Regions from separate parts of the Homo sapiens genome. Here all the other regions are linked to region 1. Evidence: fine-mapped expression QTL. A gene starts in region 1. Each other region holds a variant in brackets. All regions are shown on one strand. Distances are from middle to middle.

Region 1 (10,118 bases):
CCAGATCAACTAGTGTACTAATTTCTGTTTTCTGCTCTTATCAGTTTAATCCTTCAATTTACAGGATGACATATTTATCCAAATACATCAAATAATGGGAATCAGGGCATTATAAAAAAAATTTATAGGCTGGGTACAGTGGCTCGCCTGTAATCCCAGCACTTTGGGAGGCTGAGTCGGGCGGATCACAAGGTCAGGAGATTGAAACCATCCTGGCTAACACGGTGAAACCCCGTCTCTACTAAAAATACAAAAAATTAGCTGGGCGTGGTGGCAGGCGCCTGTAGTCCCAGCTACTCCGGAGGCTCAGGCTGGAGAATGGCGTGAACCCGGGAGGCGGAGGTTGCAGTGAGCCGAGATCGCGCCACTGCGCTCCAGCCTGGGCGACAGAGCAAGACTCCGTCTCAAAATAAATAAATAAATAAATAAATAAATAAATAAATAAATAAATAAAAAGATTTATAAGCACAAATCATGAAAGCCAGAGTTAGTTGCTCATTCATTTTTTGTTTTTTTCAGACAAAGTCTCACTCTGCCCCTGCTGGAGTCCAGTGGCATGATCATGGCTCACTGGAGCCTCAACTTCCCCCAGGCTCAGATGATCCTCCCCAGTAGCTGGGAAGACAGGCGCGTGCCACCACGTCTGGCTAATTTTTGTGTTTTTTGTAGAAATGGGGCTCCAACATGTTGCCCAGACTGGTCTCAAACCTCTGGACTCAAGTTATCCTCTCACCTCAGTTTCCACAAGTCCTGGCATTACAGGCATGAGCCACCAAGTACAGCCTGTTTGCTCATTTTTTAAGAATTCTAAACTATACTGAAAATACAAATATTAGTCCTCAGTTTTCCTTCTAAGGAACTGGTAGCAATCCGTAAGTAATTTTGGTAGCATACTAGAATTTCTGCGTCCCACACTGGGCTAGTTTTACTCAGTTTTGATGGGGTGTCTTCTGGCCTCAAGGCCTTGACTGTAGCCTTCTTAGATTTTTAGCTATACATTTCTTCAAAAATTCTGTGAGTTTTGAGTCTTTTCCTTTTCTCTCCTCCATATCCATATATCCTTATCTACGGATCTATATGTTTTCCTTTGTGTTATGAAATTAAGATCACATAATATACCCCACTTCACATCTACCTTTTATTTAAATGTACACCATGGAAGTCCCTCCAAGTCAATTAGTCGTAACATTCTCTTTTTTTTTTTTTCTTTCTGAGTTTAGGAATGGAGGTTTAATAGGCAGAAGAAAGAAAGGAGAACAGCTTTCTCTAGTGAGAGAGAGGGGCTTCTGAGAGGAAAAGCAATTAGTTGTAACATTCTTTTTAATGACTGCATAATATTCCACAGTATGGAAATATCTGAAGTCATCAATTACCCTATTAATGGGCATTTAATTTGCTTCCAGCGTTTTGCCACTACGGATAGTACTACAACGAATGCCCTAGTACTACACGCTCATGTTTAACACTTTTTTCTGTGGGACACAGGTCTAGGAGTAGGATTACTGGGTTCTTTTAATTGTATTAAAAAATAAGGCAGGGGGCCATGGCTCACGCCTGTAATCCCAACACTTTGGGAGACCGAGGCGTGCAGATCACAAGGTCAGGAGTTCAAGACCAGCCTGGCCAACGTGGTGAAACCCCATCTCCACAAAAATAAGCCAGGCATGGTGGTGAGGGCCTGTAACCCCAGCTACTCGGGAGGCTGAGGCAGAAAAATCACTTGAACCCGGGAGGCAGAGGTTCCACTGAGCTGAGATCACGCCACTGCACTCCAGACAGGGCGACAAAGTGAGACTCCGTCTCAAAAAAAAAAAAAAAAAAAAGATAAAATACCACTTCCTAAAAGGACAGAAATTCACATTTCCATGCATTGGTAACTTGAAAAGATGAAAATTACTATAAACGTAACACTACTAGCAATAAATTTGACAACAATGAAAACAGTTAACTTCAGGCTTAATTGCTAAGTCATATCGAAACAAAAGCTATTCTCTTTAAAACAGTATTAGACATTCAAATGTACATGACAATTCTGCCGTCACAGACTCAAGTTCATATTCTATTACACAAACACTTGTGATGAGCACTAGAGGATAAGCTATATTTGTAGCAATGTTATGTTACCCATTATCTTTTACACTTTAAGATTACTTAGAAGTATTTTCTTTTTTTTTTTTTTTTTTTTTTTGAGACGGAGTCTTGCTCTGTCACCCAGGCTGGAGTGGAAGTATTTTCTTTCCTATGTTTTTAATATTTAAAACCCAGTAACATTAACCATGCTATTTACTTTTTTTTTTTTTCTGAGACGGAGTTTTGCTCTGGATGCCCAGGCTGCAGTGAAATGGCACGATCTCGGCTCACTGCAACCTCTGCCTCCTGGGTTCTAAGCGATTCTCCTGCCTCAGCCTCCCTAGTAGCTGGGATTACCAGCGCCCGCCACCACGTCCAGCTAATTTTTTGTATTTTTTTAGTAGGGACAGGGTTTCACTACGTTGGCCAGGCTGGTCTCGAACTCCTGACCTCAGGCGATCCACCCACCTCAGCCTCCCAAGGTGCTAGGATTACAGGCGTGAGCCACTGAGCCTGGCCTATTTAATTATTTTAAAATCTGTTTTTTCTTTCTTTTTTTTTGAGAAGGAGTCTGTCTCTGTCGCTCATGCTGGAGTGCAATGGCATGATCTCGGCTCACTGCAACCTCCGCCTCCGGGGTTCAAGCGATTCTCCTGCCTCAGCCTTCCAGGTACCTGGGATTACAGGCGAGCGCCACGATGCCCCGCTAATTTTTGTATTTTTAGTAGAGACGGGGTTTCACCATGTTGGCCAGGATGGTCTCAAACTCATGACCTCAAGTGATCCACCCGTCTCGGCCTCCCAAAGTGCTGGGATTACAGGCGTGATGCACCGCGTCCGGCCTAGCTATTTTAAATTTCTTAGCTTAATAAAAATGTTTCGGCCGGGCGTGGTGGCAGGCGCCTGTATTCTCAGCTAATCCGGAGGCTGAGGCAGGAGAATTGCTGGAACCTGGGAGGCGGAGGTTGCAGTGAGCCGAGATCGCGCCATTGCACTCCAGCCCGGGCCGACAACAGCGACACTCCGTCTCAAAAAAAAAAGTTTCTGTCTTCAGAGTTTTCTAATTAGACTAGAATAATATGACTACTCTGCAAATGAGAGTAGAAAACAAACAAAAGGCCCTCTAACAATAACACTAACCTTGCTGCTTAGCCAAAACTAAGTTGTAAAACAGCCAAAGGCTGCTATTTGTACTGTTTTCCAGGGCGTTTTTCGAAAGACAATAAATTCCGAATACCTAAAATCATTCTAACAAATGGACAGAACAGGCTTTCAAACCCAACACTAAAGCAAGGTAAACAAAGCTTCACACTTGGCACTTTACCGAAATTAGATCCAATTATAGATATATGCCTCAAAAAATAGCGACTAGGTCATCCTGAATTCATCGGGTTCCTCTATATTAGCAGTTCTGTGGAGTGAACGCCCAACTCAGCCTTCAGATGAATTCCAAAACCGTACTTTCCTAAACTTAATCACCACAGAAAAAACACAGTCCCGCTCCACTGGCAGAAGGCAGTGACGCTGCAAGCTTCCAGGCATGTTAAATTCCCAATTCACGGGATTAACAGGAACTGTCTACACAAGTGCTAGTCATTACCTTCCAAACCCCCGAGACAGAAAAAGATGGCACTACGGTAAGAGCCATTACTGGTGAAAAGTCTCCCTTCTCCGTCCAGCGCACCCCAAGAGGGACTACAGTCCTAGAACAGGACCTGTGCTGCTAAGTATCCAGACTTGCCCCAGGCGACCAGTTCCCGGGACAGTAAAAAGGGGACCGTGTCGCCCCGCCCACCCTGAGACGCTCGGCACCCAGCTCCGCCTCTCTCCAGGAACCGCTGCATGGGACAAAAGCCACCCGCCAGCTTGCCTTGCCCTGCGGCCGGGCAACTAAAGAGAATCTCGGCGCTCACCGTCGCGACTCTCTCCTCAGCCATTTTAGCTCAGCCCACCGCTGCGCGGCCGGAAGTCGGCGGTTTCCCAGACGACGAGGCAAGCGGAAGTCGTAGGGCTGTGGAGGACTGTGAGGAAGCGGGGGAAGGAAGTAAATCGCCGAGTGACCTAAGGAATCAGGGGGAGGATTAGGGTCTGCTCCACAGAAGGCTTACCTCTGAAAGAGTCGGGGAGGGAATGCGCAGCCACTCGCTGCCTTTATCCCGAGAAGCCCCTAACACCCCTCGCCGTGGTCTGTACATGGTCTGTACCTCCGGCCGCGCTGGCTGGTAGGCCAGCCACCTGGGATGGCAGCCTAGTTCTCCCGCCACCTTACCCTGCCCTGACTCTAATCTGCATTTAATTCAGTCCTTCTTCCGGGAGATTTCGGCGGAGAATTTCTTTCTCGCCTTAGGTACAAAACTCCCCGTTTCTTGGCTGTCACTATCGAACTGAGGTACTCACCTTATCAGCTTCCCACTCTTGTTTACTCCAGAGTTTGCAAACATGCTCCTGGTGGGCTGCATTTGAACGGCAGTCTTTTGATTGGAAATATTTAAAAGTTAGGAGATTTCACAAGAAATCGGCCATGGGATAAAGAGACGACAGTCGGCGTTTTCTGCAAGGCAGTGAAATAGATCTGAATAGCGGCTGCGACTGTAGATAACTTCCCTTCCTAACATACTTAAGGCGTTCTCCATTACCTGTCTGGCCCCCGGTGCGGTGAATTAAATGTTTAGTGTTTCTAAACTAGGAAAACGTGTGGGCTTTGGAATCAAACATGAGTTCTGAATTTGACTACTGCATGACCTAAGCCCGTCGTTTCTTTGAGCCTCATTTATTAAAGTGCCGGGAGCTGTGTGATGAACAAAACGGAGGATCCCTGCACCTGAGCACTGACATTAGCCCCAATTCATACTTTTAAGTCTCGCCCTTGTAATTTAGACATAAAATCTGCCTCTCCCAATTCATTAACTGGGAAAGCATTTAAGACAAGTTTCTCCAGGCCTCTAAGAGAGGGAGAACCCCACTGACAATTAGAGTTACATAGAAGAAACAAGTACGGTAATCTATCCAAATACAAGGGGAAAGGACAGCAATAGAATAACAGCTCTTCTAAGTATTTCAGTAACACTCTCTCTTTTAATCTTTATAACAATCCCATGAGACTGTTGGTCTCCCACTTTTTTCAGATAAATACTCTGCCTTTCATTTATTAAAAATAAAATTTTCCAGCTTGGCCAGCATGGTGAAACCCCGTCTCTACTAAAAATACAAAAAATTAGTCGGGCATGGTGGTGCCCGCCTGTAATCGCAGCTACTCGGGAGGCTGAGTCAGGAGAATCACTTGAACCCAAGCGGCAGAGGTTGCAGTGAGCCGAGATCGCATTTCTGTGCTCCAGCCTGGGCGATAGAGGGAGACTCCGTCTAAAAAACAAAAATTTGCTGGGCTCGGTGGCTCACGCCTGTAATCCCAGGACTTTGTGAGGCTGAGGTGGGCAGATCACCTGAGGTCAGGAGTTCAAGACCAGCCTGGCCAACATGGTGTAACCCTGTCTCTACTAAAAATACAAAAAATTATCCGGGCGTGGTGGCCGGCTCCTGTAATCCCAGCTACTAGGGAAGCTGAGGCAGGAGAATTGCTTGAATCCAGGAGGTGGAAGTTACAGTGAGCTGAGATCATCCCATTGCACTCCAGCCTGGGCAACAAGAGCAAAACTCTGTCTCAAAAAAATTTTTTTTCAGAGGCAGGGGTCTCACTATTGATGTCCAGACTGGACTTGAACTCCTAGGCTCAAGTAATCCTCCTGAGGCAGGAAAATAGGGTCTGGAGGTAGGGAACATAAGGCCAATTCACACTTCAGCTATAACAGGTAATATTCTGTCCATAGGGCATAGGCCATAAATGTCTTTGTAACTTTACTTCATCTTCTCTATTTACATAAGGCATACCCGAAGTAACCATGGAATCCTCTGGGGTTATTTAAACTCCCCAAAATTCTGTAACGGAGCCACTGAACTTCTAAGCTCAGGCCCGCTCCCACACTGGAGTGTACTTTCATGTTCAGTAAATTCCTTGTCCCTTCCTTGCTTTGTTTGTGCATTTTGTCCAATTCTTTTTTCAAGACACCAAGAACCTGGACACCCTCCACCTTTAACACTTCCACCTCATCCTCTCAAGTAGCTAGGATTACAGGCACCAGTCACCATGCCTGGTGCTAAATTCTCCACTTTTCAGAGATTAATTAAACACCTTGCCTAAGTGAGCCGAGATCGTGCCACTGCACTCCAGCCTGGGAGACAGAGCAAGACTGTCTCAAAAAAAAAAAAAAAGATATAAAGATGAAAAATTATTAATTTCTAATCCACAGTGCTTAGTTTTTTTGTTTTTGGGACAGGATCTCGCTCTGTTGCCCAGGCGGAAGTGCAGTGGGACAATCACGGCTCACTGCAGCCTCTACCTCCCAGGCTCAAGTGATCCTCCCACCTCAGCCTCCTGAGTAGCTGGGACTACAGCTTCATGCCACCACACCCAGCTAATTTTTGTATCTTTTGTAAAGATGGGGTTTCATCATGTTACCTAGGCTGGTCTCAAGCTCCTGAGCTCAAGCAATCCAGCCAACTTGGCCTCCCAAAGTGTGGAATTACAGGCGTGAGCCACCCCGCCCAACCCACAGCGCTTAGTTTCATGCAGTTTTTCAGTATTCCAGTCCTCTTCATGGGCGGGGTTACTACGCAACACTGGCAGTCTAGGAAGAAATCATTCCAAAGGATCAAAAAAAAAAAAAAAAAAGGAGGAATTGAAGCTAATATCTTCTGCCCTATTCTTTTTATCTTCTACCCTATTTTTTCTTTTAACACATATTCTTTTTGCCACTTTCAAAAGACTGATTCTCAATCTGACATGTCACTCCCTGTTCTCTTCAGTTACCCTTTAGTTCTGCTGATGTGGGGAATCCCCAACACTCCTCTACAGAGAATATACAACATCCAGAACAAAATTTTCCAAAGGCTTCTTCACTAAAGTGTAAGAAACTACTTTCATCTTTTCCTTCAAAGATGCAACAATTTATTTCAGGGACTAAATGTCCAAGTTCCCTTTAACCACCAGATCAAAAAACATTCTAGAAAAACTCCTCTATTATTTCCACCAAATGATAAAAAGTAGAAGCCATTACGTCTCCTTTTTCAGAGCAAAGAACTACAGACTCAGGCCTAGTCCATTTACATGACTGTCTGGGGGTGCCTGCTGCAGTCAGGAGGGCCAGGTGGCAGCTTGGTCAGCGGTGAATAGCGAATAGACTGCAGCATTCTCCTTATAAAGGATTTACTCCTCAATTCCAAACCTTTCCTCAAGGGATTAACAGAAAAGCCAGTAGATGGTGAAACTTAAGTGGGGAATGGATTACAAAGGCTAACTGGTATCTGTAGATGGCTATATGAACATGTAACTTGCAAATACAGAAGAATACATAGTTAAAGTGTTGTCTAGACATCTGGATGAAGTTTTCATTTTATTTTATTTTATCTTATTTTTAGACAGAGTCTCGCTCTATCACCCAGGCTGGAGTGCAGTGGTGCGATCTCAGCTCACTGCAACCTCCAGGTTCAAGTGATTCTCGTGCCTTGGCCTCCCAAGTAGCTGGGATTACAAGCGTCAGCCACCACACCTGGCTAATTGTTGTATTTTTAGTAGAGACAGGATTTCACCATGTTGGCCAGGCTGGTCTCAAACTCCTGACCTCAAGTGATCTGCCTGCCTTGGCCTCCCAAAATGCCAGGATTACAGGCATGAGCCACCATGCCTAGTGTGGATGAAGTTTTAATAAGGTATAATAATGTCCTTCATATCAGAGGTGTGGAAGAAAAGGAAGAGGATGGGGAAATGAGAGAAGAGCATCTTTTCTGGGGGATTTTTAAAATACATATTTCTACACAATAAAGATTTGTTTTTCAAATAAATAAATTACTCTATAGCACCCTTATATACTGTCAGTTCAATAAGTTGTTAACATCTTTTGGAAGGCATCTGGCATTATAAATCCTTAAAAATGTGCATACCCTTTGATCAGTTCTATTTCTGAAATTATATGCTAAGGAAGCAATCAAGAAAACAAAGATTTATAAGAAGAGTATTTACTACACATTTAGTTTGGATAATTAAAAATAATACTTTAAAACTGGAAAGAAAGCTGGGCCCAGTGACTCGCGTCTATAATCCCAAGGCCCAGTGACTTGCGTCTATAATCAAGGTAGTGCCACACTCCTGCCTGGGCAACAGCACGAAACTCTGTCTCAATAATAATAATAATTTTAAAGGAGTCCAAGTGCGGTGGCTCATGCCTGTAATCCCAGCACTTTGAGAGGCCAAGGTAGGCAGATGGATCCCTTCAGGTCCGGAGTTTGAGACCAGCCTGGCCAACCTGGCAAAACCTCATGTCTACTAAAAATACAAAAATTAGCAAGGTGTGGTGGCAGGCGCCTGTAATCCCAGCTACTCGGGAGGCTGAGGCAGGAGAATCACTTGAACCCGGGAGGTGGAGGTTGCAGTGAGATGAGATCGCGCCACCACTGCACTCCAGCCTGGGCGACAGAGCAAGACTTTGCCTCAAAAAAAAAAAAAAAAAAAAAATTTTGGTTCAAGGTAACACAGGAAAACAAGATTTTCTATTCACTGGGGAGAATGTTTTGCTTGGAGAAAAAAGTTCACATTTATTTAGCTTATATGTTCCCTATGGATAATAAGGAGTCACTGAAGGTTTTAGGAAAGGAACAAATATCATAAAACCTAAGTTTTAATTATGTTTAGCTGTGCGGTTGTCTTGTGGGATCTAATACTCACTGAAAAAAGGGAGATGTGGCCACCTCCATGGATCCTGCCATGCCATGAGAGTTCTGACTCTACGCCTCCAAAGGAGGAAAACCAATACTGGATTTTCTGGAAAAGGAGCCTCTTATTTATTCTCCTGAGCTATAGAATTTATAAGGAACTATGTACTGGAAATTACACCTGAAGGCTAGTCACAGGGAAGAAGAAGTCTACACTTCTGCTTGGAGAGTACAGGGCCACGGAGACTACTGGTCCACACTCCCTGGCAACTTCTCCTTTTCAGAATAATGCTGTCTGTGTGGTTTAGGTGTATCTCCCACTGAGTATCAACAGCGGAAGCTAAGTACTATCTAAGTCACATAAACAAGGCAGTAACAAGTGAACCAGACAGGCATCCCCACCTCAGACAGTCCCTTAGCTATTCCCATCCTGTCAGTCCACAGTATGACTCAAGTTGTACATCCCTGTCTCTCACTATCTCAGGTCTCAGTCCTCAATACAGCACTTTTGTTTTTTTTTGAGACAGAATTTCACTCTGTCACCCAGGCTGGAGTGCACGATCTCACTGCAACCTCCACCACCTGAGTTCAGGCAATTCTCGTGCCTCAGGCTCAGCCTCCTGAGTAGCTGGAATTACAGGCATCTGCCACCACGGCCAGCTAATTTTTTGTATTTTTAGTAGAGACAGGTTTTTGCCATGTTTGCCTGGCTGGTCTTGAACTCCTGAGCTCAGGTGGTCTGCCCACCTCAGCCTCCCAAAGTGCTGGAATTACAGGCGTGAGCCAACGCACCCAGCCCTTCATCTTTATATCCTGTGTGGATCAGGGTATCTCCTTTTTTTTTGACCTCATTTATCATAGTGCATATCAGATTATATTTATTGATTGGTAAATACATAGATGAATTAGTACATGAAACAATAAATGATTATAATACACAGATATTAGATTGAAAAGTTATGAAAGATAATTTTTTAAAAATGTTCAGTTTATTCATGATCTCATTTTTCCTTCGAGTTTTAATAACAGAATTTTCTAAAAGGCATATATATATGCTGATGTGAGATATGTGTAGGATATCTGTTGAGATAAGAAGTCAGAATAGTTTTTGATCCATAAAACTTACTGTAGACAAGAACTTAAGTTTGTTATTTTTAAAGGTAAATCAGCTTCTAACTTCTTTATTTTGTTTAACCACTTTTCCTCTAGCTACTGAGGTCAAACCTGAAATAGGCTGTAGACTCCACCAGCTGGGTAAGAATGGGAAGAAGATCAGAAAACCTAAA
Region 2 (10,118 bases), 72 kb before region 1:
CATAGTGAGGTCTTGTCTCTATTAAAAATAAAAATAAAAAATTAGGCCAGGCGCGGTGGCTCATGCCTGTAATCCCAGCACTTTGGGAGGCCAAGGCGGGTGGATCACGAGGTCACGAGATTGAGACCAGCCTGACCAACATGGTGAAACCCCGTCTCTACTAAAAATAGAAAAATTAGCTGGGCCTGGTGGCACGCGCCTGTAATCCCAGCTACTTGGGAGGCTGAGGCAGGAGAATTGATTGAACCTGGGAAGTGGAGATTGCAGTGAGCCGAGATTGTGCCACTGCACTCCAGCCTGGTGACGGAGTGAGACTCTGTCTCAAAAAAATTAAAAATAAATAAAAAATTAGCCAGGTGGTGTGGCTTATGCCTGTAGTCCCAGCTACTCGGGAGGCTGAGGCAGGAGGGTCGCTTGAGCCTGGGAGGTCAAGGCTGTGGTGAGCTATGATTGCACCACTGCACTCCAGCCTGGGCAACAGAGCAAAACTCTGTCTCAAAAAAAAAAAAAAAATCATGAAGCAGTGCTGATAATCTCTGTGGACTTTCCTTTAAATCTCAGTGCCGTCCTCATTGTTCAGTGGTTTTGAATCTGCTAGCCTGGCCTTGAATGTTGTGTCAAAAACAGCGGTTTATTGGAGTTGAGGAGCAGGAACAGATACGAAATGGCTTCTAGAAAGAATAGCCAGAGGGAGGCTCTGGTTGGAGTTGAAGAAAAAGGTTTTGGAAAAGTTGCAGAGCACCTTCCCCTGAAGTCTCTCAGTTGGGATGCTCTTTAATTCTCATATTGGAAAGGCTGTCCTATTCACTTAACAGTTCAGTAATGGGAGAGAATTTTATTCCACAAATGAGGTCACCCGGTTGAGGATATGGTGATCCAGAAACTTTTTTTATACTGTATAAAAACTCAAACAGTTTTCATCTGGCAGCTTTGTTGCAGACAACATCCCATGTCTGTTTGCCTGCACAAGGTGTGAGTGAGTAAAGAAAGTGGGGGTAGGGTCTGCTTTGGCTGCCATAGTAGCACAATACCATAGACTTGGGGGCTCAAGCAACAGAAGTTTATTTTCTCACAGTGGAGACTGGAAAGCCCCAGAACAAGGTTCCAGCAAGGTGTGGCTTCTGGTGAGAAGTCTCTTCCTGGCTTGCAGGTGGCCACCTTCTCAATGTGTTCCCACATGTCCTGTCCTTGGTGCATGCGGTGGGGGGAGAGAGATTGATCTCTCTCTCTTTTCTTATAAGGCCACCAGTTCTATCTGATTAGGACCTCACCTCACCCTTATGACCTCATTTCATATTAATTACCTTCCAAAAGCCCTATCTCCAAATAAGCCACATGGGGGTTTGGGCTTCACCATCTAAATTTGGGGAGGTGACACAAACGTGCAGTCCGCAGCAGAGGGAATGAGATGTAGCAGCTGCATAGGTGCCTGACGGCTGTGACACAGTTCTTTTGTCAGCCTCTCAGTTCTGGGTACATTATGGCCATACCCTCCAGAGGCCTTAGCCCTGGTGACATGCCTTCTGCCGCACACCTCCAGACCAACAGCTTTCAAAATTAGATTTGGATTCCAATATTTTGTTGAAATGATTAGAATCAGCCTGAATGTACTGTCCTGGGGTGCTGTTGAGGTTCTGTGGGGAAAGGAACGGGGCTCCTGATGGACTTCGTGTTGCTTGCCTCCAGGTTCTTCTTTGCGGTCCAGTTGGTCCAAAGCTACATGAGCTTCTTGATGACAATGTCTTTGTTCCACCAGAGTCATTGCAGGAAGTGGATGAGTTCCACCTCATTTTAGAGTATCAAGCAGGTAAGGAAATGAGTAAGTAATGGTGGCAAGACCAGTCAAGGGGCTGTGTATTGTCAGATTGGGGTGTGACTGTGCCGGAAATTTATCTTTGTAAATTAGCAGGATCCTGTTTTTGCCATACTGAAAGTTTCCTGACCTATTGGTTCTACTGAGCTGATACTGGCCGTTGTCTCAAGGGAGACTGAGTATTATAACATGGAAGAAAATTCCCAGGTCTACAAGCAGAATTGCTCCGAACCCAAGATAAATCAGGTCATAGGAAAGCAAGCATCTCAAATAAAAGTGAAAACGTGTTAAACACACATATATAAAGTTTTCCTTTATGACTAAGACAAGAGAAAGGCAGGTAGCATCCATTCAACTCTGTGCTGGATTCTGCCCTAGGCCTTTCTGACTGACTCTTCCAAGCTGCTTGGGGTTGATTCCAAGCTTCTGGCAAGTTTCTCTGGAGCATTTTATTTTTCCTTGGGTGTGTGAATGGAAGTGTTTTGTATTTAACATCACTATATTGTTTCCCATCAGATGTTCTAATGTTAATAAATCCACATCCACTGCATCCCATCCCCTCTTCCCAGCAGATTTTATATGTTACGTAGATTAGGCATCTGGTTTCTGAGAGAATATTAAATACTTGGACATACTTTGATCCTGTGTATTTCCTGCTGTAATTTTCCCTCTGCTCAGAACTCAGACTCTTGAGTTTCTGATTCAACACATTGTTAATACACATTAAAGACTCAAGCATCTAAACAGACTAATTGGTACCTTAAAGCAGCACTTAATACTCTTCAGTGAACTACTTCCAAGTCAATTAAGAGAATCTTCTCTACTAGAGTAATTAACTTTAACATAAGATATGAACTATGTTATTTCTTGAGAATTATGCCTTTCTCCAGGTAGAAAAAAGAGTTGTAACATGTTCTGGTTCTCTTTCGGGTGCTTACTAGAATCAGTTGGGAATTAAAGAAGGATAGGGTCTGAAAATTAGGGACACAGCGTTGACGTAGGCAATTCATACTTAATGCTACACAAGTTTTTGAGTTTCTCAGCTTTAGTTTTCCCAAATGGGAAGTAAGAGTAATAGTTTTTACTGCCTGATCATTGTGGTAAGGATTAAGAGATTGGTTGGTGTGCGGAAACATTGTGAGCAGCTTGGATGAAAAGATGACCTGGCCGCACGTGGTGGCTCATGCCTGTAATCCCAGAACTTTGTGAGGCTGAAGCGGGTGGATCACAAGGTCAGGAGTTCAAGACCAGCCTGGCCAAGATGGTGAAACCCCGTCTCTACTAAAAATACAAAAATTAGCCAGGTGTGGAGGCGGGCGCCTATAATCCCAGCTACTCAGTAGGCTGAGGCAGAGAATTGCTTGAGCCTGGGAGGCGGAGGTTGCAGTGAACTGAGATTGCACCACTGCACTCCAGTCTGGGCAACAGAGCGAGACTCCGTCTCAAAAAATAATAATAATAAATAAATAAAAGAATGACCTGACTGTGGACTGGAAGGGTCTGGAATTGCTAAAGATGAGCCCCTGAGGTATTGCTGCCATGAGTTCCAGATTCGTGTCAGTTTTTTTGGCACCCACAGCAGGAACTGGGGACCTTTGTGATTCCTGGTTTGTCATTTTTCCTGGTGACTACAGAGTGGAGAGTCTTACGTCTTCAGCAAGACTTTGATGTTGTATTGGACAGCTGTGCCTCGTATGTAGTTAAGGAGACAGCACAGTTCACCGCACAAAGAGAGTGTCTCCATCCTTGGGTTTATAAGCTTCACACTTCAGTTTTTCTTTCCTATGCCTCTTCTGCATACAAAGCAGTGGACTTCCATTAAACTTTGTGAGGTGACATTTTCCTAGGTCCAAGGAGGGAGCCTAGTCTAGTGGCAGTAGCCCTGGGCTCAGCTCTCTCAACAGAAATCCATTCCCAGCTTGTCTCTGACCTCAATAGGGAAATTCCAAGGGATTTGTCCATTTTTTTTTCCACATTCTCTCTTACCAGATCTCCCCAGAGAAGCCCATTGTCAGGCTTGGGCTGGGAATCCAGTGAGTCACTACGCAGAGGTTTTGCTGACTTACTGGCTGAGGGCAGGATGATACATTGAGAAGAGATTGCTTACAGGAATGAATACAACACTTTGTGAGGAAAGAGGGGCGCTAACTACCATTACAGGCAGAATTAGATCCATTTGCATCTGCCCCCTGCATGGCCTCTCCAACGGGGCCATGAATATGCTGGAGGTGTTTGTGTCTAGCCTGGAGGAGTTTCAGCCAGACCTGGTGGTCCTTTCTGGATTGCACATGATGGAGGGACAAAGCAAGGAGCTCCAGAGGAAGAGACTCTTGGAGGTAATGGCACTGTTACAGAATTTCACAGATCTCAGCTGGTGGTTTTCTTCAGGTTCCAGCCTCTCTTGGCATCTGCTGCCTTGTTTCCTGTGGAAACAGCAAGCAGCTCTGCACGGTTCTTCTCATCCTTGCCTTGCAGAAGAGCCTGTTTATTTTTGCCTCTGTCACTTCCTGAAGAAATCA[G/A]TGTATTTTCAATACAGTGTGGCTCCTTTCTCCTAGGTTCAGTTAGGTCGTGTTTCCTAGCAGTGTCACTATTCAAGGGTTGAGTCCACGTCTTGCTCTCTGGAGAATGTCAATGTAATGTATTTTTCCCATCGTACAGAGTCTTTGTTGATTTGCAAAATGTTGGATTTGGGGTTCATACCCATATTTTTTGTTGTCATGGGCATTTAGGTCATCAGTCTGTTCTCTTATTTGCTTGTTCTTTTGTTAATTCATTCCCATGGCTATATGCCAGACACAGCATGATGCAGAAGGAATACGACAGAGGATGACACAGGCCCTGCCCTCAGCTCACAGTTTACTGCCAGAGATAGACACTTGGAAAAAGTAATTGCAGGCCGGGCATGGTGGCTCACGCCTGTAATCCCAGCACTTTGGGAGGCTAAGGCAGGCAGATCACCTGAGGTCAGGAGTTTAAGACCAGCCTGGCCAACATGGTGAAACTCCGTCTCTACTGAAAATACAAAAATTAGCCAGGCGTGGTGGCGGGTACCTGTAATCCCAGCTACTCGGGAGGCTGAGGCAGGAGAATCGCTTGAACCTGGGAGGCAGAGGTTGCAGTGAGCTGAGGTCGCGCCATTGCGCTCCAACCTGGGCAACAGAGTGAAACTCCATCTCAGAAGAAAAAAAAAAAAAAAAAAGGAAAAAAGAAAAAGGAATTGCAAAATCATGTGCCTCAGTCCTGTATTAGGGTACAGTGGTGGCCCCAGAAAGGAGGTAATCAAGTCTGCTTAGGGGTGGTAGGATTAGGAAAGGCTTCATGTTTAGGGAGGAACTAGCACTTGAACTTGGGTCTTTAAACAGTCATTCCTCTAAAGCAACTCACATAGAAGCAACTGGAGCAGCTAGATAGTCTGATCCTTTGGATCAGGTGCCCAGAAACCACTGATGGGCAGCAGGGAAGAGGAGATGCAGTGAGCTTGGCTGTTGGGAAGAAATTCAGCCTGCTTAAGTTCCAACTGAATGAAAGATGCTCAGGGCAATGCTGTGAGGAAGAATGTGCTTTAAACAATGACAGCCTATACTGTCTGCAGGGCGTGCGTGCTGCACACTGTATGCTGGTATTTGGAAGTCATGCTGCCATTCTGTACTGTCTCTCCTGTGTTTGAGAGCTCAAGTAGGGCTCTCCTGGGACTCAGGGGGAGCTAATTACCTTGAAAAAGGCATATAGCACCCATACTATGTTTCTGTTTCTTGGCTGGGTTTGGGTTTAGGTTTTTGGTTTGTTTCTTGCAGTGCCATGCTGACCTTAGGCCATTGTTGCTGGGGTCTCCTCAGCCAGAAACCAGCCTGCTTGGAGCCAAGGCTCCTGTGAGGTGCCTGAAAGTGCCCCCACAGCTAGGAGACCTAAAGCCTCTTCCTTTTCTTCCCATTGTGTTGACTGGGTTTTTCCAGGGGAGGAGTGGGGCCAGTTAAAAGCTCCCCATGCCAACCGATTCATCTTCTCTCACGACCTCTCCAACGGGGCCATGAATATGCTGGAGGTGTTTGTGTCTAGCCTGGAGGAGTTTCAGCCAGACCTGGTGGTCCTCTCTGGATTGCACATGATGGAGGGACAAAGCAAGGAGCTCCAGAGGAAGAGACTCTTGGAGGTAATGGCACTGTTACAGAATTTCACAGATCTCAGCTGGTGGTTTTCTTCAGGTTCCAGCCTCTCTTGGCATCTGCTGCCTTGTCTTAGGTCCTGGCCTCCCAGGGACATATCTTGGCAGCTGGCTGTGGAGCTTGCCTCCTGCTGCAGTGAGGCACCTCACTGTATCCCTTCAGATGTGGGCAGCAGCTTGAGTAGGACAGGGCAGAACATCTTCTTGCCTGAGCCTCTGCATCCTGTGCTAAACCGACCATGGCTGCAAGCTGCAGGGTTTGTAGTTTGTGTCCTTTGTGTTATTTGTATCATCTCACTTCACATCAGCTATGCTGCAACTCCTACAGATTCGTACAGCAGTCGAAGTGAACTGCCATCTCTGATTCTGTATCCCTGATGGCTCTGCACAGCCTAGTCTTCCCTGGTGGGAAGAGTGTCCCTTGTCCACAGAGGTGGTGGGGACCCACATTGCTTGTAGCTCCCGTGAGCATGCAAAGAAGGCCATTACCAGGAGGAACCGCCTCTCAGGATCTGATCTTTTCTTCCCTCTTTCTTGACTTCCTTCTATTTCTAATGGCAGTGCTTATCTTCTTCTCTTTGCAGGTTGTAACCTCCATTTCTGACATCCCCACTGGTATTCCAGTTCACCTAGAGCTGGCCAGTATGACTAACAGGGAGCTCATGAGCAGCATTGTCCATCAGGTAACCTCATGGGACCATCGTTTGGCCCTGATCCTCATAGAGCCTTGCAGAGAAGCTTTTTTGTGCAGTGGGACCATCTGTTTGGGCTCAGGGACTGGCTCACTGACATGTAGGTTTGTGTCACTCAGACCCAAGTCCATGGAGATCCAAATAAGGATCCAGGACTGTTCTGAAACAGCAGTATCTCCTACTAGGTTAAAGTTATGGCAGTGTAACTGACAGATTGTTGATCATATTTCTCCTCTGGAATGGAAAAGTTGAAAGTGAATGGAAAAAACTGAAAGCCCAGCTCAGCTGCTTTCAGTTGAACTTCAAGAAGCTCAAAGCAAAGAAACTTTGAGGGAACCTCCCTCCTTCCTCAGGCATCTGGGTGTTCAGTGCCTGCCTCTGGGCAGCAGCATTGACTAGTATAAATCTGAGCAGGTGAAGCTTCAGAACACAAGCTCTGGAGACCTGGGTTCGCATGCCAGCCTTGCACTCACGGGCTTCATGAACTCAGGCAAGTTACCTCACCTGGCAATCTAGTGTTACCTAATTTTAATTGGTAATATATTCATTTGGTTAAAAAATACCCAAAAACTATGAAAAGATATACAATGAAGTCTCCCTTCTACTTCCTCCCCTTCCCTACTTGCACCCTTCATCAGTTTATTTCCAGAGTTCTTTTGTACAAGTATAAGAAAATACAGAAATATATCCTGATTTTGTTTTCCATCCCTTTTTACCCAAAAAGATAGCATAGCCTACTGAATACTCTGTTCTTCACTTTGCTCTTTTTTTCACTAAATATATCTTGGAGATCTTCCTGCATCACTAACATGGAGAGTATCCTCTGTCTTTTCATAGCCATATGGTTAAAATGAATGTGTAGATGTACCTCCGTTTACTTAACCTGAACCTTCTGGATGGACATATTGGTTATTTACTGCCCTTTGCTGTTACACACAGTGCTGCAGTGAACAACTTGATACATGATTTTGTTTTGCCTGTGAACAAGTCCATATTTAGGAGAAAGTCTCAGAAGTAGAACAGCTGGACTGGAGCATAAAAAAGCACTTGTAATTTTGAGATTGCCAGATTGCCCTCCATAAGAATTATACCAGTTTACTTCCCACTGGCAATAATTACAAATACTTGTTCCCTCATATCCTTGCTACCAGAATGTTAAAATTTGCATTTATATCAGTCTGACAGATGAAAAAATGGTATTTCAGTATACAGTCATCCCTCGTCATCAGCGGTGTGTGGGGCGGCGGGGGCGGTTCCAGAACCCTTCCCAGATACTAGAATCTGCAGATGGTTAAGTCCTGCAGTTGGCCCTGTGGAATCTGTGGATTAGACAAGTTGGCCCTCCCTATCTGCAGGTTCCACATCCTTGAATACTCTGTTTTCCATCTGAAGTTGGTTGAAGCCATGGATATGGAGGGCTGACTGTCGTTGGTTTTGTTTTTTTTTTTTTTGATAGACTTCATTTTTTTTTTATGGTAATATTAGGTGCATAGCAAAATAGAGCAGAATCCAAGAGAGTTCCCATATACTTCCAGTCCCCTCACACACAAGCCTCCCCAACTACCAGCAGCCTGCACCAGAGTGGTACATTTGTTAAGCTAGTGAGCCTACACAGGCACGTCATCAGCACCCAAAGTCCATAGTTTACACTTGGGTTCACTCTTGGTGTTTTTCAGTATAGCTTTTGTTTGGGTTTTTCTTCTCACCTTTAAAAAAATGAGCCATTTCTATTTCATTTTCTCTGTAACTGTCTACTTAACCCTTCTGAGGCTTAGTCTGTACAATGGAGGCAGTCCCTCCTTCCCTCAGAAGATTACAGTAAGAATTGGATGAAATAAAGCCTTTAGCTCAGTGCCTGACACAGAAGAACATGCAGTGAAGGAAAGCTGCTATTGCTCCAACAAAGATGTAGGCCATTAAATTTTTAAAACCATTTTATACATGCACACATACATACAAGGACTCCTCTCTCCTGCAAAAATTGTTACCTTAAGTGTGGTTCTCTGGTTCTAAGGAGGGAAGTGCTAAGTAAGAAAGACAGGGAGGTGGATATTGTGGTTCCCCATCAGACAGAAAACACGGGCACCTGTTTGGTAATCTTTTTCTTACAGTGTTATTGCTAAATTCAGACAGTCTTCCTAACCCACACCTGCTTTTAAAAAGCTTAGCTCTAACATGAAACTGTATGCTTTTTGCTTCTTGGTGTTTTGTATAAAAAAAATCATTATAACCCTGACAGTATGTTGCTTGAGGTCTCCATTTTACTGGTCTAATACTGCTGACATTCAGGAACTGAGAGCCATGCCCCATCAGTGGTAAGAGTATCTCCTATGTGTGCAGTGGCAAAAGCTAGGGACCATGGAAAGAAACACAAAATATAGACACCTCTGCCTTTTGTCTTACAGTGGCATATCACAAAAGACTGCATCTGAAACAATGTTACTGCAGCTTTCCAGTTTCTCCCAAATGATGATGAAGGTGAAGATAGGGGTGTGATAGCTAAAACAGTGACTTCAGGGCCAGGGAGTCCTGTATCAAGGAAGAAAGCTGCCTGCCTGTGTTCCCTGTCATTTAGTCACTGGCTGTGTCATAAGACATCTTAGGAGCCAGGTTATCTCCATCAGAAAGATACCTGTTGTTGTTTTTGTTAGCAGGTCTTTCCCGCGGTGACTTCCCTTGGGCTGAATGAACAGGAGCTGTTATTTCTCACCCAGTCAGCCTCTGGACCTCACTCTTCTCTCTCTTCCTGGAACGGTGTTCCTGATGTGGGCATGGTCAGTGACATCCTCTTCTGGATCTTGAAAGAACATGGGAGGAGTAAAAGCAGAGCCTCGGATCTCACCAGGATCCATTTCCACACGCTGGTCTACCACATCCTGGCAACTGTGGATGGACACTGGGCCAACCAGCTGGCAGCCGTGGCTGCAGGAGCTCGTGTGGCTGGGACACAGGCCTGCGCCACAGAAACCATAGACACCAGCCGAGTGTCTCTGAGGGCACCCCAAGAGTTCATGACTTCCCATTCGGAGGCAGGCTCCAGGATTGTATTAAACCCAAACAAGCCAGTAGTAGAATGGCACAGAGAGGGAATATCCTTCCACTTCACACCAGTATTGGTGTGTAAAGACCCCATTCGAACTGTAGGCCTTGGAGATGCCATTTCAGCCGAAGGACTCTTCTATTCGGAAGTACACCCTCACTATTAGGAAGATTCTTAGGGGTAATTTTTCTGAGGAAGGAGAACTAGCCAACTTAAGAATTACAGGAAGAAAGTGGTTTGGAAGACAGCCAAAGAAATAAAAGCAGATTAAACTGTATCAGGTACATTCCAGCCTGTTGGCAACTCCATAAAAACATTTCAGATTTTAATCCGAATTTAGCTAATGAGACTGGATTTTTGTTTTTTATGTTGTGTGTCACAGAGCTAAAAACTCAGTTCCCAAATCCCCAG
Region 3 (9,347 bases), 22 kb before region 1:
AATTAGCCGGGCAGTAGTGGTGCGTGTCTGTAATCCCAGCTACTCAGGAGGCTGAGGAAGGAGAATCGCTTGAACCCAGGAGGCGGAGGTTGCAGTGAGCCAAGATAGCGCCACTGCACTCCAGCCTGGGCAACAGAGTGAGACTCTGTCTGAAAAAAAAAAGAAAACAAATAGTAATGAAAAAGCAGACGTGGACAAGAATCATATGTAAAAAAACCTAGAGTATTAATAATGCCTAGTAAAGTATTAGTTCATTCAGTTTCTTAAAATTTCAACTCCCTTGTTGTGATTACTTCTTCTAGAACAGGGATTTGCAAACTACAGGGCTTACAGGCCCTGTATATTTTTGTACAGCTCTCAAGCTAACAGTGGTTTTTTTATTTCTAAAGGGTTATAAAAAATAAGATAACAAATATGATGTAGAGACTGTATGTGGCCTACAAACCCTAAAATATTGTTGGCCCATTACAGAAAAAGTTTGCCAACCCCTGTCTAAAATCTAACTAGGCAAGCTAAGAAAAGTGTGATAAGATTTCCAAGTATTATCACAGATGAAAAAGAAAGAGAACCTTTCAAGATTCATACTGGTGGCCAGGCGCGGTGGCTCACGCATGTAATCCCAGCACTTTGGGTGGCCGAAGCGGGCAGATCACCTGAGGTCGGGAGTTTGAGACCAGCCTGACCAACATGGAAAAACCCCATCTCTACTAAAAACACAAAAAATTAGCCAGGCGTGGTGGCACATGCCTGTAATCCCAGCTACTCAGGAGGCTGAGGCAGGACAATCGCTTGAACCCAGGAGGCGGAGGTTGTGGTGAGCCGAGGTCACGCCATTGCACTCCACCCTTGGCGACAAGAGCAAAACTCCATCTCAAAAAAAAAAAGATTCATACTGGTATCTGCCTTCGGATCAGCGGTGTCAAAAAAAACTGGTATGGGCCGGGTGCGGTGGCTCACGCCTGTAATCCCAGCACTTTGGGAGGCTGAGGCAGGTGGATTACGAGGTCAGCAGTTTGAGACCAGCCTGACCAACATGGTGAAACTCCACCTCTACTAGAAATACAAAAAAAAAAAAAAAAATTAGCTGGGCATGGTGGCGGGCACCTGTAATCCCAGCGACTTGGGAGGCTGAGGCAGGAGAATTGCTTGAAACTGGAAAGCGGGGGTTGCAGTGAGCCGAGATTGCGCCACTGCACTCTAGCCTGGGCAATAAGAGCAAAACTCCACTTAAAAAAAGAAAAAAAAAAACTGGTATGAATCTTTGTCATACCAGTATGAATTAGTTCTGTGCATTGCCATAGGTATAAATGCCATGGGTATAAATTAAAAACCTTAGATGGGTCACAAAGCTCTGGATACCAAAAAAGATGACACCAAGGATACATTCTGCATGTTAGTACTACCACTGTCTGCCTGCAAGTTTGTAACACATATGGTATGTCACCAAAGATACAGAGAAAGGGAAATACAAATGGTTTTTAAATATACACATGATGATCAACCTTGCAGTAAGAGAGAAATTAAAAAATAAAACTCAGGGCTGGGCACGGTGGCTCACGCCTGTAATCCCAGCACTTTGGGAGGCCAAGGCGGGCAGATCACAAGGTCAGGAGTTCGAGACCAGCCTGGCCAATATGGTGAAACCCCATCTCTACTAAAAATACAAAAAATTAGCTGGGCATGGTGACACTCATCTGTAGTCCCATCTACTGGGGAGGCTGAGGCAGAAGAATTGCTTGAACCTGGGAGACAAAGGCTGCAATGAGCCAAGATCATGCCACTGCACTCCAGCCTAGGTGACAGTGAGACTCCATCTCAAAAAAAAAAAAAAAAAAAAAAAAACTCGACAAAATACCATTTTTCATCTATCCAAAGATAAAAAAGTTAATATGCTGAGTTGAACATCTGCCTCCACCAGAAGACCAACATGTCCAAGAGAGTTGTTTGCTCTTGACATGAGAAGACACATGGAACACACCTAAACCTGACCCACAGCCTGCAGTCAAACCCAGCCAACCCACAGCTGATCTGAAAGCCCATGAGCAATTAATATTTGTTTGTTGGGGGCCACTGAAATATTGAGGTTGTATGTTAAACATCACTACCATAGCAAAAGATAACCAGTGTATGAAGTATGGGGAAGAAGGAATTCATGTTTTATCACTGAGATATAAACTGCCACACTCTGTTTAGCAGGCACTGTTAGTTGCCTACCCAACATCCTGCCTCTCATTTTTATTATTATGGCAATCTCTTACCTTGCAGGCTTCATAATCTTTCCGGATATAATGAAGATGAATCAACCAGTTCTGCTTCTCCAAAATAGGAAACTCTGGAGCTAGGCAGCATATTTTGACAAAACAAACAACACAGTCATTAGATTTTCTCCTTTAGCACTGTCCTCATGTCTAAACTAACCATAAACATACTGCAATATCACATTAAAATTTTGATGCTACTGACTACAATAATATATTATAGTGCATCAAAAATTTATAGACTATTAAACTAAGATACTTGTTCTACTACTACATGTTGAATACATATCTTGAGTTTTTAAAGCTTGTAATATCAGTTTCTCATCAAATAATGACTGGGACTGAAAAACATAAAATCATCCTTCGTCTCTTCTCAATCTCTCCTTCCCTGGTTATAGAAGGTGAACAGAAAGACTTTCTAAAGGAGATTGCAGGAATGTCACTAAGGAAATATATCAGGGGAACCTGCCCCCAATATTTCAATGTAGGTTCTTTCTATTTTCTATAAGCGTCAGCCGGCTAAGAAATAAGAGTACGAAGAGAGGAATTTCACAGCTGGGCCTCACATATATCGGTAGGACCGTGATGCCCACCTGAGCTGCAAAATAAGCAAGTGTTTATTAAGGATTTCAAAAGGGGAGGGGGCCTAAGAACAGTGAGTAGGTCACAAAGATCACATGCCTCAAAGGGCAAAAAGGAGAACAAAGATCACATGCTTCTGAGGAAACAGGACAAGGGCAAAATCAGAAACTCCTGATAAGGGTCCAACAAAGATCACAAGGCAAAAGGCAAAAGCAAAATTACTG[A/G]TAAGAGTCTATGTTCAGCGGTGCACAAATTGTCTTGATAAACATCTTAAACAACAGAAAACAGGGTTTGAGAGCAGAAAACTGATCTGACCTCAAATTTACCAGGGTGGGGTTTTTTCCCCACCCTAATAAGCCTGAGGGTACTGCAGGAGACCAGGGTGTATTTCAGTCCTTATGTCAACAGCATAAGACAGACATGCCCTATAGACCTCCTCCAAGGAATGCATTCCTTCTCCAGAGTATTATTAAAATTCCTTGCTAGGAAAAGAATTTAGCGATATCTTCCCTACTTGCATGTCCGTTTATAGGCTCTCTGCAAAGAAGAAAAATATGGCTCTATTTTGCCCAACCCCACAGGCAGTCAGACCTTATGGTTGTCTTCCCTTGTTCCCTAAAATTGCTGTTATTCTGTTCAAGGTGCACTGATTTCATATTGTTCAAACACACGTTTTACAATCAATTTGTACAGTTAACACAATTATCATAGTGGCCCTGAGGTGAGGTACATCCTCAGCTTACGAAGATAACAGGATTAAGAGATTAAAGACAGGTGTAAGAAATTATAAGAATATTATTTGGGAACTGGTAAGTGTCCATGAAATAATCACAATTTACGTTCCTCTGCCACAGCTCCAGCCGGTCCCTCCGTTTGGGGCCCCTGACTTCCCGCAACAGAAATATACATATAAGATAGTTAATATCACTTCTGGCCAGGTGCAGTGGCTCACGCCTGTAATCCCAGCACTTTGGGAGGCCAAGGCAGGCAGATCACGAGGTCAGAAGATCGAGACCATCCTAGCAAACATGGTGAAACCCTGTCTCTACTAAAAATACAAAAAATTAGCCGGGTGTGGTAACCCGCACCAATAGTCCCAGCTACTTGGGAGGCTGAGGCAGGAGCATCACTTGAACCTGGGAGAAGGAGGTTACAGTGAGCCGAGATCGCGCCACTGCACTCCAGCCTGGTGAAAGAGTGAGACTCCGTCTCAAAAAAAAAAAAAAATCACATCTGATGATCAGAGTACCACAAATATTTTAAATAGTTAAACACAATCTTTAGAAATAGCTCAAATGAGAACATTATGCTGTTGCCCAGAAATGAGAAGTCAACGATGAAAAAAATCTAGTTGAGTCATTGAAAATGGCTCACAATACAGAAACCATAAAATGAGTTACCTGCCCACTGAAATCAGAAGTTTAAAATATGGTCAAATTCATTAAGAATTACTTTTCTGTGGTAACAAGGAGTAGAAAGATCCAAATTAACCCAAGAATAGTGAAGATCTCAAGGAAGGAAGAGGGAAGAACAGAATTATGAAAAGACAGAAAGGAGACTTCAACTCTTTAATGCCTATTTCTCAAAAAAATAAAAAGCTTTAAAGTAAACATGACTAAATGTTTTTTATTAAGCCTAGCCAGTGAGTACATGTGTGTTTATATTATTTTTTGTGAATTTTAATATGTTGGAGACAGTCCTTTTTAAAAATGGAAAAGAGGCCAGATGTGGTGGCTCATGCCTATAATCCCAGCACTTTGGGAGACCGAGGAGGGCAGATCATTTGAGTCCAGGAGTTTGAGGTCAGCCTGGACAACATGGTGAAACCCCATCTCTACAAAAAAATACAAAAATTAGCAGGGTGTGGTGGCGCATCCTGACATCCCAGCTACTAGGGAGGCTTGGGCACCAGAATCACTTGAACCTGGTGCGGGGAGGTTACAGTGAGCCAAGATCATGACACTGTACTCCAGCCTCGGCCAAAGAGCAAGATTCTGTCTCCAAAAAAAAAAAAAGAAAAGAAAAAAGGAAAAGAAAGGGAAGAGCATGGGGAAGAGAGGAAAATGACTGTAATCCATTTCTTGATGTTCTGCAACCTAAGGAGAAACAATCTAAAGAAAACCAAAAAACTTCTATGTCCATAATATGACAGGAAGAAAAAAAAAGCTTACTGTGACTCAGAGTTAATGTTGCCTGAACACAAAAATTAAAAGGTACAACCAGACACACTGGCTCACAACTGTAATCCCAGCGCTTTGGGAGGCTGAGGCAGGAGGATCAGTTGAGCCCAGAAATTTGATACCAGCCTGGGCAATACAGCAGGACCCTCATTTCAACAAAAAATTTAATTTTTTTAAAAAAATAAAAAAGAAGTAATGCTGCTCATTGCTATCCAAGAATAGGGATTATCAATGGAATTTGTAAGAAGAAATTATAACAGAAAGTATGGATATGACTTTACATGCCAGGAACAAGAAAAAAAGTAAAATTTTAAGCAACTGACTCTTCATTTTCTGACTACACACATTTTCTTAGTAGAACCACCCTTCTAGTCGTTGGGGCCGATCTGAAATTCTTCTAAGACTTGTGTTTCCTTTCTTTTCTTCCCCTAGGCTTCACCAATGACCAGACCTTAGCCATTCACATCCTACTTAACCACTTCCAGAATCAAATCTCCTTCGAAAAAGCCACACGAGTCACCAAGCTTAAAGACATGTGAGTGTGTTAAGTGCATAAAGTGCACCGTCATAAATAGTTCCAGGGTCCGGGGGTGGTGACTCACGCCTGTAATCCTAGCATTTTGGGAGGTCCACGCAGGTGGATCATGAGGTCAGGAGATCGAAACAATCCTGGCTAACACAATGAAACCAAGTCTCTACTAAAAATACAAAAAATTAGCCGGGAGTGGTGGCGGGCACCTATAATCCCAGCTACTCGGGAGGCTGAGGCAAAAGAATCGCTTGAACCCAGGAGACGGGGGTTGCAGTGAGCCAAGATCACACCACTGCACTCCAGCCTGGGCGACAGAGCGAGACTCCATCTCAAAAATAAGTAAATAAATAAATAGTTCTGGGACAAGTAGCTTACTAAGTCATCTTGGACCAAGTCTCAACTGCATGACCCAGTCCTCTGTCACCTATCTACTAAAGGGAAAGAGTAAAAGAGAATGAGGCACTGAACCCTTTTGAGTTTATACTAAGTATTACAAACCTTAGATACTTAGTATATCACTAAGTAGTCTAAAAGAAAATTTATAAAATGTTAATTTTCAAGTCTTAGCTGTTATTAAAATCTCACAATAAAAGACAATCAGGGCTAGCTATAGTGGTTTACGCCTGTAACCCCAGCACTTTGGGAGGCCCAGGTGGACGGATCACTTGAGTCCAGCACTTCAAGGCCAGCCTGGACAAACCCCATCTCTACAAAAAATACAAAAAAATTAGCCAGGAGTGGAGGCACAAGCCTGTAGTCCCAGCTACTCAGGAGGCTGAGTTAGGAGGATTGCTTGAGCCTGGGAGGCAGAGGTTGCAATGAACCATGATTGTGCACTGCACTCCAACCTGGGTGACAGAGTGAGACCCAGTCTCAAAAAAAAAAAAAAAAAAAAAAAGGACAAGCCATGTTTTGTGTTTCTTGAGTGAAAGCTGGAGAAAAAAGTGTTCAATTTGTAAGGTAGCTCAAGAACCCAAACGCTCATTAAATGGAACTCTAGGGATTAGAAAAAGGAAAATCCACCAAATCCAGTGCTGAAGGTCATTTCACACTCTTGGAGATGTAGCTGTCCAAAAGCTAATTTTCGTTCCATCAAATATTTTAGAGAACATTTCAGTGTACACAACTGTCCTATTACCAAATGTGTGACCTGGGAAATTTATAGTTTCCTCATCTGTAAAACCAAGACTCATTCATTCAACCAATATTCGCTGGGTACCTACCATGATTCCAGGCACTGTTCTAGGCACTGGGAATACAGCAGTGAACAAAACTGACTCCCTGATTTCATGGAGTTTATAATTGAGGGCAGGGGCTACTACCACACAGGACAGATAATAAAGTATGTTACACTTATGAGTGATATTTTTCTATGGAGAAAAATAAAGCAGGAAAGAGAAACAGTGCCGGGTGGGGGGTTTTACTTTTAAATAGAAGGGTCAGGAAATAAAATACTCATTCTCATAGAGTTGTATCGTATTACCTAATATATAAAGAGGTTCAAATAGTGCCTGGTACATAGTAGGCCTTAAAGAAATGTTACCTATTATTGTTGCTGTTTTTTTGCATTTTGTTTTTGTTTTGTTTTGTTTTGTTTTGTTTTTTTGAGATGGAGTCGAGTTCTGTCATAAAGGCCGGAGTGCAGTGGCGCGATCTTAGCTCACCGCAATCTCCACCTCCCAGATTCAAATGATTCTTATGACTCAGCCTACTGAGTAGCTGGGATTACAGGCACATGCCACTATGCTCAGCTAATTTTTGCATTTTTAGTAGAAATGGGGTTTTGCCATGTCCGCCAGGCTGGTCTTGAACTCCTGACCTCAAGTGATCCACCTGCCTCAGTCTCCCAAAGTGCTGGGATTACAGGTGTGGGTCACTGTGCTGGGCCTGTTGCTGTTATTTTTATTACCATTATTATCTACTTATCATCAAAGATGAAGGAATTCTGGATACCTCAGAAATCCCTAGAATCTATGAATCCTGAATTTACAATTAGAATTTTACCTGTAAATATATAAGTTGAATTTCTGGTATTCCAAATCATTGCTCACTCCAACTCCCCCTAAAAATGGAGATACTGGTTCTTATATGCTTTCACAGGTATTATGAGAATTACTAGTTGAAAGATCCTCCACAAAACATAAGCATGTAAATGCAGAGCAGAGTCTCCCCTATTTTGCAATAAAGCACAGTGATCATCTCCAATGCTACATTTCAGGAGCCTATGTTACCACAGAGGTCAGGTAGCCAGCTGACGAGATGAAGACAAGGTAATGGCTTTTAGTGAGTTATAAAAAAGACCTCATTCATATCCCAGCTGCCACACTACCCCTCCACCATCACCAAGACAGTGGGGGCAGAAGGCTGGCAACCTAGCAACAATACTCCCTTGCCACTTCTCTTGCCCCATTCTACTCTTTTGTAACATCTCTTCCCCCTTCTTTCTCCCTTTAAGGATGCACCTGACATATTTTAAACAATTCCAGAAGTGAATAAACATGACACCTCAAGAATTCTCCCCTGTAGTTTGCCCTAGGTGCTAAATTCTCTTAGAAGAATTTCAAATTCTGCTTAGGCTCAAAAATCAAACCTTTACATGACACTTTGATTAATGCTAGGGATAGTATGCTAGCTATATAAGTACTAAGCAGAAAATTATTATGGTTCAGATTTTTCATTGAAAAATTTACTAAATAACTAAGGCTTTTGTAAATATATTGCAAGTAAAGCCTTTAAAAAAAATACTCATCAAAGAAAGGATTTCTTCCAGGACTAGCAGACATGTAGCACGTAAAAGTTTTCACATGCAGAATTTCAATCTTGATTCAATACCAGCCTTCTATGGGGCCTAGGGCAAGTTATTTCACTTCTCTGGGCCTCCATTTATCCCCCCTAAAATTTTCACCCGAAAATCCAAAGAATCTGAAAATAGTCATTCAATAAATGTTAATTTCCTCATGCCAAACAGGAATTATAACACTTTTCTACCTCAATAGGATATTTGGGGTATCAAAAGAGATAACAAATCTTGAAAAGAATATAAATGTAAGACATTTTCATTACTATCATTTTGAGCCCTGTATCAGTCAAAGCCTAACAAAAAGCCACTTGAGGATTTGAAACACAAGGACTTTAATGCAGAGAACAGGCAATGGAAGAAATGAGAGGCCCAACAGGGAATGGTGAGACAAATCAGAAGTCTGCATGAGCAAAAAACCACTACGACTCTGAGGCCTGAAGGTCGGGGAGGGAAGCCCTGTCTTCTCTTTCCTCTTGCCTTCTAATCTCCTGCCAGTTCCTCCACTTGCTAATCCAGCCAGAAACTGCTGACACGGAAGCCTGGGAAGAAAAGGAGGCTGCAAGAGTCAGCTCCTCGGCCGGGCGCGATGGCTCACGCCTGTAATCCCAGCACTTTGGGAGGCCGAGGCGGGCGGATCACGAGGTCAGGAGATCGAGACCATCCCGGCTAAAAAAAGGTGAAACCCCGTCTCTACTAAAAATACAAAAAAAATTAGCCGGGCGTAGTGGCGGGCGCCTGTAGTCCCAGCTACTTGGGAGGCTGAGGCAGGAGAATGGCGTGAACCCGGAAGGCGGAGCTTGCAGTGAGCCGAGATCCCGCCACTGCACTCCAGCCTGGGCGACAGAGCGAGACTCCGTCTCAAAAAAAAAAAAAAAAAAAAAAAGAGTCAGCTCCTCACTATACCAAAAAGAGAAGAGAAGGCAAGGAATGGATCTGAGGGCGAACAGGCCCAGGATCAAGAGAAACATCTACTCTGTTCAGGTACATAAATGATG

Alleles and levels. Alleles are on the strand shown, and positions count from the first base shown. SD is a standard deviation of normalised expression in the study named. Not every link is listed here.
As copies of G replace A in region 3, the expression in stomach of the gene that starts at base 4,028 in region 1 goes down (small effect, 0.28 SD a copy in GTEx).

The links. PIP is the estimated chance that this variant, and not a neighbour inherited with it, causes the effect. A credible set is the group of variants that fine-mapping cannot tell apart.
Region 2: its variant is the best candidate, but not a certain one, in a credible set for the expression of BBS4 in whole blood (TOPMed, PIP 0.83).
Region 3: its variant is the best candidate, but not a certain one, in a credible set for the expression of BBS4 in stomach (GTEx, PIP 0.72).

The regions. Positions count from the first base shown.
Region 1 is chr15:72,680,117-72,690,234 of GRCh38, reverse strand. BBS4 (Bardet-Biedl syndrome 4) reads right to left here and starts at 4,028. Exons shown (of 16, transcript NM_033028.5): 1 at 3,984-4,028. The coding sequence starts at 4,007. It overlaps HIGD2B (HIG1 hypoxia inducible domain family member 2B), which reads left to right and starts at 4,053. Exons shown (of 3, transcript NM_001350932.3): 1 at 4,053-4,417; 2 at 10,042-10,118.
Region 2 is chr15:72,752,096-72,762,213 of GRCh38, reverse strand. ADPGK (ADP dependent glucokinase) reads left to right here. Exons shown (of 7, transcript NM_001365225.1): 4 at 1,687-1,807; 5 at 5,767-5,963; 6 at 6,560-6,658; 7 at 9,319-10,118. The coding sequence ends at 9,873. Among named protein-coding and RNA genes, the nearest start is that of ADPGK-AS1, 26 kb to the left of the region's middle. The variant G/A (reference allele first, on the strand shown) is at 4,333.
Region 3 is chr15:72,702,691-72,712,037 of GRCh38, reverse strand. It overlaps BBS4 (Bardet-Biedl syndrome 4), which reads right to left. Exons shown (of 16, transcript NM_033028.5): 3 at 2,259-2,338. Among named protein-coding and RNA genes, the nearest start is that of BBS4, 21 kb to the right of the region's middle. RefSeq lists a silencer at 5,454-5,654. The variant A/G (reference allele first, on the strand shown) is at 3,065.